Homo sapiens: one gene and its partners. The protein of the gene in region 2 binds, or shares a complex with, the protein of the main gene of each other region. Each region holds a gene or a part of one and is shown on either strand. Other genes may lie near its edges. A codon is read from its position in the direction of its gene.

What was found.
Region 1: MFAP1 (region 2) and SF3B3 share a complex: the UniProt entries of both Homo sapiens proteins name them as parts of the spliceosome B complex.
Region 3: the proteins of MFAP1 (region 2) and PRPF38A are in contact, whole or in part, in a crystal structure (PDB 5F5S), measured with the Homo sapiens proteins. Residues at the interface, in NP_005917.2 of Homo sapiens: Glu275 (codon at 1,984), Tyr276 (codon at 1,981), Trp279 (codon at 1,972), Arg282 (codon at 1,963), Glu283 (codon at 1,960), Arg286 (codon at 1,951), Arg289 (codon at 1,942), Asp290 (codon at 1,939), Arg294 (codon at 1,927), Leu297, Glu298, Lys301; in NP_116253.2 of Homo sapiens: Tyr124, Asn125, Tyr127, Lys129, His143, Asp145, Glu146, Asp149, His153, Tyr169, Val170, Glu172.

Annotation. Positions count from the first base shown.
Region 1 is NC_000016.10:70,522,040-70,525,787, reverse strand, and holds the start of SF3B3 (splicing factor 3B subunit 3), read right to left. Parts: upstream 1,973-3,748; 5' UTR 1,860-1,972; intron 1-1,859. Other genes in the region: COG4 (conserved oligomeric Golgi complex subunit 4), read left to right, coding at 2,245-2,415. UniProt on the Homo sapiens protein: Component of the 17S U2 SnRNP complex of the spliceosome, a large ribonucleoprotein complex that removes introns from transcribed pre-mRNAs.
Region 2 is NC_000015.10:43,811,068-43,814,815, forward strand, and holds part of MFAP1 (microfibrillar-associated protein 1), read right to left. Parts: intron 3,622-3,748; coding exon 3,434-3,621; intron 2,291-3,433; coding exon 2,182-2,290; intron 2,081-2,181; coding exon 1,920-2,080; intron 1-1,919. UniProt on the Homo sapiens protein: Involved in pre-mRNA splicing as a component of the spliceosome.
Region 3 is NC_000001.11:52,402,980-52,406,727, forward strand, and holds the start of PRPF38A (pre-mRNA-splicing factor 38A), read left to right. Parts: upstream 1-1,622; 5' UTR 1,623-1,770; coding exon 1,771-1,900; intron 1,901-2,700; coding exon 2,701-2,860; intron 2,861-3,748. UniProt on the Homo sapiens protein: Involved in pre-mRNA splicing as a component of the spliceosome.

The DNA of each region.
Region 1 (3,748 bases), on a different chromosome or scaffold from region 2:
CACCATGTTAGCCAGGATGGTCTCGATCTCCTGACTTCGTGATCCGCCCGCCTCCGCCTCCCAAAGTGCTAGGATTACAGGCGTTGAGCCACCGCGCCCAGCCCATAGACTAAGGTATATGTTTAACGTTCTAGGACCACAGTAAAACATGAACGAAAAGGACCGATGTTGAAAGACCAGGGAGTGGAGAAACAACAAAAAAAGCAAAAGAGAGGAAGCTAGGAGCTGCTTCTGAATCCCTGAACAGCTCCCCGCAAGTTACTTTTCATATTTTGTAGCTGATCAAAACAGTCTACTTTCCCCTTTCCTTATAACTGATACAATCCATTACAAACCTTTGGAATTCATTTTTTCCCAAATCTAGTTGGATTCAGGTTCTCCAGCGACACCTTAACTTTGGATCGTGGAGGAAGGTGCATTTCGGAGGATCAGTCCAGTACTAGAAAAACTATATACGAGGCCAGGCGCAGTGGTGGCTCACGCCTGTAATCCCAGCACTTTGGGAGGCCGAGGCAAATGGGTCACTTGAGGTCAGGAATTGAGACCAGCCTGGCCAACACAGTGAAAACCCCTCTACTAAAAATGCAAAAACTAGCCGGGCGCGGTGGCACACGCCTTTAATCTCAGCTACTCGGGAAGCTGAGGCGTGAGAATAGCTAGAACCAAGGAGGAGGAGGCTGCAGTAAGCCGAGATCAAGCCGCTGCGCTCCAGCCTGGGCGACAGCGAGACTTCGTCTCAAAAACAAAACAAACAAACAAAAAATACATACCAGATAAATTTGGTAAGCTTTAAAACTTCCCCCACGTCTGGGCCGGGCGCGGTGTCTCACACCTGTAATCCCAACACTTTGGGAGGCCAAGGCGGGTGGATCAAGGTCAGGAGATCGAGACCATCCTGGCTAACACAGTGAAACCCCGTCTCTACTAAAAATACAAAAAATTAGCTGGGCGCGGTGGCGGGCGCCTGTAGTTCCAGCTACTCGTGAGGCTGAGGCAGGAGAATGGCGTGAACCCGGAAAGCGGAGCTTGCAGTGAGCAGAGATCGCGCCACTGCACTCCAGCCTGGGCGACAAAGCGAGACACCGTCTCAAAAAAAGAAAAATTAGCCGGGCGTGGTGGCACGCGCCCGTAATCCCAGCTAGTCTACTCGGGAGGCTGAGGTAAGAGAATCGCTGGAACCCGGGAGGCAGAGATGGCAGTGAGCCGAGATCGCGCCACTGCTCTCCAGTCTGGGCGACAGACTGTGACTCCGTCACAAAAACAAAACAAAACAAAACAAAAAAAACTTCCCCCACGTCTGTTTACCATTATTACAAAAAGCTTGTATGATTGCTCACTGCATCTTCTCCATCCTCCAAGGAAACATCATCGCATTTAAACTCTGTCCTCCATTACGCAAACGAGAAAATAGAGGTTCAGAGGAGGAGACAAGTTGCCCAACTACCAAAATACAAATTCAAACCGGAGTCTTGGCTCTAAAGACTGTTTCCGTTATTTACGCTTTTAACACGCTCCATCTTTCTATCTTCCCCTCGGTGTACCATTTACTCTACCCAGAGGGAGACATCCATGCCTCCCGCTGCTTGTCACACCTCCCCCGTCTCAGAGTCCCCAGAAGTTAAAAGCAATCTCCACGAGCCCTATTTTGAGATAGAATATGTTCCCACACTGTGGATGGAAGCGAGAGATAACTGCAGGAAGCCGTTTTGGCGCCTCAACCATCCCTCGGTACCTCCTCCTGGTCCCCAGCCTCTCGGGCCTAGACTGCCCGTGACCCCCGCCAAAGTCTCGGGTCCCCCTTCCATATGGCCGGTCTCCGCCTCCCCGGGCCCGGGGAAGTCTCCAGGCTGTTTTTTTACCCTGCAGCGAGAAGGATGGTGTGGATATCCAACGGATGCTACCTCCCTTCAAAACTTAAGCCACCACCAACTCCAACATACTGGCGTCCGCCATTAGACCTCAAGACAGGGACATTCTGGTGGCGCGCGGCGGAAAAAGGCACCCAATCCGCGCCTGAAGAATATATATAATTTTTAAAAAATGCTTCCGTCTTGCTTCCACACGGCATTACAAATTATTTAAACATGCTTTATTGCTTTGCTTTTTCCAGGAGAATAGAAAATTAATACGTTTTTAGAAGTAGACTTTAAAAAAAAAAAACCATTAGAGTTCATTGGGCACTTCTGTGGGCAGCCCCAAATAGGCGCCAACGAAGAGGGGGCCTCGCGGGACCGGAAGTGCCGAATGGGGACCAAGATGGCGGACCTTGATTCGCCTCCGAAGCTGTCAGGGGTGCAGCAGCCGTCTGAGGGGGTGGGAGGTGGCCGCTGCTCCGAAATCTCCGCTGAGCTCATTCGCTCCCTGACAGAGCTGCAGGAGCTGGAGGCTGTATACGAACGGCTCTGCGGCGAGGAGGTGCGGGGTCGAGCCTCTTCTTTTTCATGGAGGATCTAGGGAGAGTGGGAGCCTTCAGTCGGGAAATCCGGGCTGTGGGAAACTCTCCTTGCTGGGGGATACAAAAAAGCGGGAAAACAAAGAAGCGGAAGCTAGTCGGGTATATGAGTAGTCCTGTCAACTCTTTTCACGCTGTCGGACGCGCCGAGCTTGTCTTCCCTGATACCTGGGCGATCTGCAGCCTCTCCTCCCTAGACCCCCGTTGATTTCCCTGATCCATGATCACCAGTTTCTCCACGGGAGTAAAGTTAGTCTGAGAGTATTTGCCAAATTGCTTGGTTCTCAAAATAATAAGCGCCCTTTTGCATTGGCTTAATTTACAAATTATGAAACGCTCTCATCCTGTTATTTAAGAGGGAAGCCTTTGCAGATTAACTTCTTGAAGCGTTTTAAGACTTCCTCTTGTGGGGAGTGATTTGGGGGTGTGATTTTAGCGTTTTGGTCAAATGCACATCTTTGTAGAGGTTTAGCTTTTAAGACTCAGACACAATTCTCTAATCTTGGACAAGTCACTTCATCTCTGGTACCCTTGATATTTTATCAAATGAGGGGTGTGGACTATTCTCCAATTCCTTTCAGTTCATAACGTTCTATTTCCTGCCTCCTTTAATTTTCAGTGGCAACTCGATGCTGTCAATTCACTTTCGAATGTCAGTTGGGTTCCTTGCTAGTCAAAAGAGATCTAAGCTCTAAGCTTGTCAGCTGTTTCCCAGACCAAACTTCTAGCAAAGTTGAGCACAAAAGGCAGTTTCAGCCTGAGGGAGAGGTGATCGTTGATATCTTTGAGTATTTTCAAGTATAAACTTGCACTAACTCTAGCAGTTTCTGATACGTTTTTCAGCAAGATGTGTGTGGTGTTTTTTGTTTTGTTTTGTTATTTTTAGAAACAGGGCCGCTCTCTGTTGCGCAGGCTGGAGTGCTGTTGTGCTGCAATCAGAATGGATGAAACCAGAGGCGCACACCACCGTGCCTGGCTAGTTTAGTGTGTGGGGCTTTTTTTGTCTGGCCTCAGCAAGATGTGTTTTAAAATTTAGTATCTTGCGGGGCGCGGTGGCTCACGCCTGCCATCCCAGCACTTTGGGAGGCCAAGACGGGAGGATCACCTGAGTCAGGAGTTCGAGACCAGCATGACCAAAATGGTGAAAACCATCACTACTAAAAATACAAAACTAGCCGGGTGTGGTGACGCATGCCTGTAATCCCAGCTACTCGGGAGGCTGAGGCAGGAGAATTGCTTGAACCTGGGAGGCGGAGGTTGCAGTGAACCAAGATAGCGCCATTACACTCTAGCCTG
Region 2 (3,748 bases):
TAAAGGGCACTTAGACTCCTACTCCTACAGGTCCAGGATAAAAATCTTAGAAACTACAGGCTGAGGGCCAGGCGTGGTGGCTCATGCCTGTAATCCCAGCACTTTGGGAGGCCGAGGTGGGTGGATCACCTGAAGTCAGGAGTTCAAGGCCAGCCTGGCCGACATGGTGAAAACCCACCTCTACTAAAAATACAAAAATTAGCTGGGCGTGGTGGCATATACCTGTAGTCCCAGCTACGCAGGAGGCTGAGGCAGGAGAACCGCTTGACTCCCAGGGGGTGGAGGTTGTAGTGAGCCAAGATTGCGCCACTGCACTCCAGCCTGGGCGACAGAGTGAGACTGTGTCTCAAAAAAAAAAAAAAAACCAAAAACAAAAAATTACAGGCTGAGTATGGAGTTATCTACTGTGTGTAGCTCATACTCAGGCAAGTTTTCTTTTTTTCTTTTTTTTTTTTTTCCAGATAGAGTCTCACTCTGTCACCTAGGCTGGAGTGCAGTGGCACGATCTCAGCTCACCGCAACCTCTGCCTGCCGGGTTCAAGCGATTCTCTTGCCTCCGCCTCCCGAGTAGCTGGGAATAACAGGCACACACCACCACACCCAGCTAATTTTTGTATTTTAGTAGAGATAGGTTTTCACCATGTTGGCCAAGCTGGTCTTGAACTCTCAGCCTGAAGTGATTCGCCTGCCTCAGCCACCCAAAGTGCTGGGATTATGGGTGTGAGCCATCACGCCCAGCCTAGAGTTATCTATTGATGGTTTCCTTTGTAATCTGGGATTACCCTCTCATACCTAGTAATTTACAGGAATGAGTGATGCAGCTCAGAAATGATTCTGCTGGGGCCGGGCATGATGGCTCATGCCATAATCCCAGCACTTTGGGAGGCCGAGTTGGGTGGACAACCTGAGATCATGAGTTCGAGACCAGCCTGACCAACATGGTGAAACCCTGTCTGTACTAAAAATACGAAAATTAGCCAGGCATGGTGGCGCATGCCTGTAATCCCAGCTACTTGGGAGGCTGAGGCAGGAAAATCACTTGAACCTGGCAGGCGGAGGCTGCAGTGAGCTGAGATTGTGACACTTCACTGCAGCCTGGGTGAAAAGTGAAACTTCATGTCAAAAAAAAAAAAAAAAGATTCTGCTCTAACACAGTGTAGATTATTTAAGTGCCACAAATTCTTCCCCTCACAGTATGTATGCCCCTTTTCAAAAAGTATGACTTTGCTGCTCCTCCTCTGCAGAGGTGGAGTCTGTTTCTCCACCTGCTTAAAGCTAGGTTGGCCTTGTGACTTGCTTTGACCAGTATGTGGCAAGATCGATGTATGAGTTCTGGAACCGACATGTCAGAAGACCTTGCCCTCTTAGAATGGTGCCCTGAGACTGCTATGTAAGGAAGCCAGTCTAATCCAGTGAAGGATAAGTGAGGTATCCTAACTGATAGCCACCACCTACTACTAACATGTGAGTGAAGCCCTTTTAAGTTTCCAGCCCAGTCAACCTTCCAGCTGGATGCAACTACATAAGTAAGCCCAGGTGAAATCAGTAGAGGAACTGTTCAGCCAACCTCCAAAGTTGTGAAAAGTAATAAATTATAGTTTCAAGTCACTCAATTGTGGGTTGGGTTGTACACAAGAAGAGATAACTACTAACAGTTACTAATTTTTGTGTCTACTAGGAAACTAAAGGGAGCACTGGCTGGCACTCTATTATGGACACACATCGACAAAGTGTTTTTCTCTTCCCTGATTTCACTGTAGCAAGTGAAACTCATATTCCAATTATAGGAAACTCACAAAGCAACAAGAACTCTGAAGGTGGCTAGAATGGAACTCACAGTAGGTAATGAGTCTCAGAGCTATCCTGCTAGAAACCTGTTCCATTAGCAGCATTAACTCTAGGCTCATCTTTTTACTCACGCTTCTCGATCTTCTCTGTCCCTCTTGATTCTTTTTAGCTCTCGAACTTTCCATGCCTCATATTCCTCCTCATCATTTTCATCATCAGTATTGAGTGCATCCAATGCAGCCAGGGATCGCTTGTTCTCTTCCAGCTCTTTTTTGGTTTCCTCTTCGACAATCTGGATAGGGAGAACAATTCAGCTTGGACTTCCTTACTCTCCTCAGACAAACCTGATTACACTATTTCTTGTACTCATTCCTTGCAACCACTCCCCAGTACCTTGAGTGTGTACTTGCGCCTTTCCTCAGCCATGCGTTTTGCTTCCTGCTCCAGCTCCTTCTGTTTCAATGCTTCGGCTTCACGTTCTTGAACTGTCACTCGGTCCTTCCTGCATCACAGAGATCCTGTTAATTGCCCAAAGTCCTTAGAGTGGAGTGCTTTGTTCCCCTAGACCTAGTCCCATCCAAATCAGACAAAAACCAAACAATCTTTGGCTCTATTATTTTCAAAGAGCAAAAAACGCTGAGTCATCCCAGGTCTTTTTTTTTTTTTTTTTTTTTGAGACGGAGTCTCACTTGTCGCCTAGGCTGCAGTGCAGTGGTGTGATCTTGGCTCACTGCAACCTCCGCCTCCTGGGTTCAAGCAATTCTCTGCCTCAGCCTCCTGAGTAGCTGGGATTACAAGAGTCTGCCACCACACCTGATTAATTTCTTTGTATTTTTAGTAGAGATGGGGTTTCACCATCTTGGCTAGGCTGGTCTTGAACTCCTGACCTCCTGATCCACCTACCTCAGCCTCCCAAAGTGCTGGGATTACAGTCGTGAGCCACCGTGCCCAGCCATCATCCCAGGTCTTTAGAGGACTAAAATCATGTTCATCTTTGAGAACTGCCTAGACAGCAAAGAACCTGCTGGCCTCTAAGCAGTAGGATTTCTAGCCATCAGGAAAGGAATAGGAATTTGCTCGTTGAGTTTAATTTTGTGCTTAAAAATATATGGCCTTGGCTTGGTGCCGTGGCTCATGCCTGTAATCCTAGCACTTTGGGAGGCTGAGGAGGACGGATCACCTGAGGTTGGGAGTTCGAGACCAGCCTGACCAACATGGAAAAACCCCCTCTCTACTAAAAATACAAAATTAGCCAGGCGTGGTGGCGCATGCCTGTAATCCCAGCTACTCGGGAGACAGAGGCAGAACTGCTTGAAACCAGGAGGTGGAGGTTGTGGTGAGCCGAGATCATGCCATTGCACTCCAGCCTGGGCAACAAGAGCGAAACTCTGTCTCAAACAAACAAAAAAAGGCCTTGGACAGATATATGCTCTATTACTGAAAAAAGAGATGTGAAAACAAACTCAGGTTCTCTGCTAACGCCAAGATATTCCTCAGCAGCTAGTCTGCCAAGGGTAGAGCACTAGCAAAAGCACTTTCACTCAGCGTTTAGATTTCAGAATAGCAAGACAGAAAACAGACTTTTGTCTCCAGGCCTGGAAAGTGGTAATTAAGTGGATTCAGATCTGGCTTGTGAGATACTTACTTTCGAATGAAGACTGGCTTAAGGCGAGGCTCCATCTCATCTTCACTGTCTGTGTACTCTTCATACTCAGACTCTGATTCTGACTCCTCTCCAGAACGACCCTCATCTTCCACTTCCATGACTTCCATCTCTTCATTTTTTCTCTCCTGTGCTCGCTGACGCATCATGCCACGCCGCCGCTCTATTTCCTATCAAGTCATATATATAAGCCAGTCAGTCAAATGGCCTATGGCTTTTTGTTCGTCTCATCAAACACAACAAATTCAAATGTAAAAAGATACAACTTAGTATCATTCTATTTTTAATCCTATCCCC
Region 3 (3,748 bases), on a different chromosome or scaffold from region 2:
CTCAAACCCGGAAAAGCCAGACTGCAATTACTGTGCTCTTAACTACTTCACCTTACAACACACTGTGTGAAACTGGATAATGTTAATATGTAACTGAGAGCTTGCTTTTGGTGTACTTATTACAATAAATCAGGCTTCCCAGCCACTGACTGAACATTGTGGATTGGGCCTCAATTTGCTTACCCACAAAATGGAGAAAATAGAATCTTCCGTTTATTCAACCAATATTTATTAAGTACCCATCGTGTGCCAGGCACTATTTTAGGATAATGGAAGATTAAGTGAAAAAATGCAAAATGGTAAATCCACTTTCCCACTACCTTAATCCCTTGCATTTATTTGTAAGGTACAGTGGTTTTATTTATTAAGTATCATTTGATGAATACTATGGAACTAACATAATTCAAGCAAAATTTTGCATTCAATTTCGGCAGATTCACAAACCTCCTAAAGTCCACATATTGCCCTCCATTAAAGTTAAAAACTGTTGCAAAGGGACTTAAACCATTCTGTCATATTGGAAACTCCTTTGGCATTTCCAGCCCACCTAACACAGCAGAGACGAGGGTACTATTATTCATGTGTTACAGACAACTAGAATCGTATATAATCATTGCAGTTTCACAAATAGATCAGGATAAGAATGCCTTTTCCAACTGTCACAGCAGAAGACTCTTCAATTCCGGGGTTAGAAAAGAGAAGTAGGAAGGGGGCCACCAGACTTCTCTTCTGAAAAGAAGGTGAATGACAGACAGCCCAGCAGTTAGGAGCTCATCTGAAAAAAAGATCTGGGTAGGAGCCCAGACTGCTTAGTCACGAAAAGCGACCTAAGACACGTCCCTCCCTGGGCGCAATTTACGTCCGTAAAATGGGGTAATAACCTCTGCTCCGCCTTCCCTGTAGTGGTTCCTACACTATAGCTCAAAGAACGAAACAAGTAGAGTGCTTTACAAATGCAGATGGAGGGAAAGTCATCACTGAGCATCAGGGTGCGGAGGGCAGGAATGCTCCTGCTTCTAGGCTGTTGGCTTCCGCCTTCCCCCCTGCAAACTCAGTTCCCTGCAGCGCGGGAAGCCTTTTAGGAATCGGAGTGTGGAACAGAGGAACGCTCTTAACAGTTCAGAACAGTGCCTGGCACTGAACAGGCGCTTGGTACATGTCAGCTAAAAGAATCAATGACTGAGTCTACAGAGAACGTCCTCAGTTTCAGAGGTTCCGATGCGCCCTCCCCCGAGTCCCTCGCAGCCCGCTGGACGCCACACTCACCCGGCTCCAAAGCTTCCTCCGGCTAGCCGCAAGCCCTCCGTTTCCTACCGCCTCCACTTCGAGAGCTCCGGGGGATGCGGCACCTCTAACCTGCACCAGCAGGGCTCCTTCTACAACTACGGGCCGAAAGCCAGGACCAAAGCGTGTGTCTCACTAGAAATGAAAAGAAGGTGGAAGGAGAAAAGAAAACTTCGCGCCAATCGGCGTGGCCCCGCCCCCAGACCGTCCCTTCGTTGCGACACCAACTAGCTCGCCCCGCCCACTCCGTACACCTAAGAGGGGCGCATGACGTACATCCGCTAACATGCAGCCGCCATCATTGATTCGATAGGCGACGCGGGGAGCGGAAGCCCTTTACACTACGGTGTTTCCGGCTTCAAGATGGTCGCCTAAGCTGTTTAGTGAAACTTCTTCCACCTTTCTCCATTCCTCTAGGTGCTTTTTCTGAACCTGGATGTGAGGCATTAAAGGATCCGACGGAAATAGAATTGAAGGCATTCTAAAATGGCTAACCGTACAGTGAAGGATGCGCACAGCATCCATGGCACCAACCCTCAATATCTGGTGGAGAAGATCATTCGAACGCGAATCTATGAGTCCAAGTACTGGAAAGAGGAGTGCTTTGGACTTACAGGTAAGTGGAAGCGCGCGGAGCGCCTCTCAGCCCCCTTGTGGCCCATTTCTCCTGACCGAGCGCGGGTAGGACTAGCGACTGGCCTCTGGGGGTGGTACTGGAACGGAGTATGTCGATCATTCAGAAAAATTTTGAGTGCCTGCTAAGTGCCTCGTCTTGTGTTGAGTATTAGAGGCACAGATGAATCTGGTAAGGTCATATTCTGAAGGCTGTCTCAGTTGGGTGTTGTGAGTTATTCCGTATTTAATGATAGCAGGCTGGGTTGCAACAGTGTTAAGCTCAGGGATCCGGATATAACACTTTGACACAATCTGTTGAAGGTCTTTAAGGACCTAACGTTAATATGCCTGAAACCAAATTCATGATCTTACTATTCTTAGATCTGGGCCGGTTCCAGTATTTATAAATATCAGTGCTTCAGAGAAGTCTTCCAGGTAATCTTCCGATTTGAATTGTGGCTTTAAATCCATGTCCTGTGACAATCTGTGGACCTTGAGCAAGTCACTTTACCTTTCTTAGCCCTCATTTTCCTTACCTGGAAATAAGAACATTGCTAGAACTTTCTTCATGACTTGTTAAAAAAGGTTAAGTGAGATAATATGAAAAGCTTAGCAGGGTACCTATTTTATTATCCATTCTCAATGTATATTAGCTGTTGTCGTTACTGTTATTAATACACATTCGTTCTCCTAATATTACACTGTTGATGTATATTTAGGAGAACCAAAGCTTGAACTAACTCCACTCCAACTAGGAAGAGCTTAGCCCTAATATGTTACTGTATTGTTTTTGTTTTTTAGCTGAACTTGTAGTCGATAAAGCCATGGAGTTAAGGTTTGTGGGTGGCGTCTATGGTGGCAACATAAAACCAACACCCTTTCTGTGTTTAACCTTGAAGATGCTTCAAATTCAACCCGAGAAGGATATCATTGTAGAGTTTATCAAAAATGAAGATTTCAAGTGAGTGCAATGTTCACTAGCTAATATAAGAGGTTTAATTTTGGCGGTTTAGAATTGGGCTTTGGTTAAGAGGGGTGTACACAATGTATCTCATTTCTAGAGAGTTCCACTCCAGATTTTTGCTTTTGAGCCCTTGAGTTTGTATTTTTTGTTTGTTTTTTGTTTTGGAAACAGAGTCTCTCTGTGTTGCCCAGGCTGGAGTGCAGTGGTGCGATCTCGGCCCACTGCAACCCCCATTTCCTGGGTTCAAGTGATTCTCCTGTCTCAGCCTCCCGAGTAGCTGGGATTACAGGCATGTGCCATCACGCCTGGCTAATTTTTGTATTTTTAGTAGAGATGGGGTTTCACCATGTTGGCCAGGCTGGTCTCGAACTCCAGACTTCAGGTAATCCCCTCCCCCCCCGGGCCTCCCAGAGTGCTGGGATTACAGGCATGAGCCACCACACCCTGCCAAGTTTGTATTTTATCTGTTCTGATTGTATTAATCTTCTACTTTACTTTCTCAGTTTTGGTAATTTTTCCCTGAAAAAGGATTTCACAGATTCACTAAATACATATTAAGCAAAAGTGAGTGCCTGATATGTTGGTAGGCACTGGACGCTCAGGGGTGAAAATCAAACAACAAAAGGTGGTGGTTAAGAGGTGTAAGATCTGGGTTCACATCCAGATTCTGTTGCCCATTAACTATGACATTGGAGAGGTTACTTAATTTTCTAAACTTTGCTTATCTGTAAAATGGTGACTATAATATAAGAGTGAAAGAACGTAATGCATGCAGATCTCTGAACACAGCACTTGCTGCATGGTAAACACCTAGAAAATGTCAGCTTATTACCGTATTACCGATTCTCGAGGAAATCACAAACAAGTATAGGAGACAGACATAAT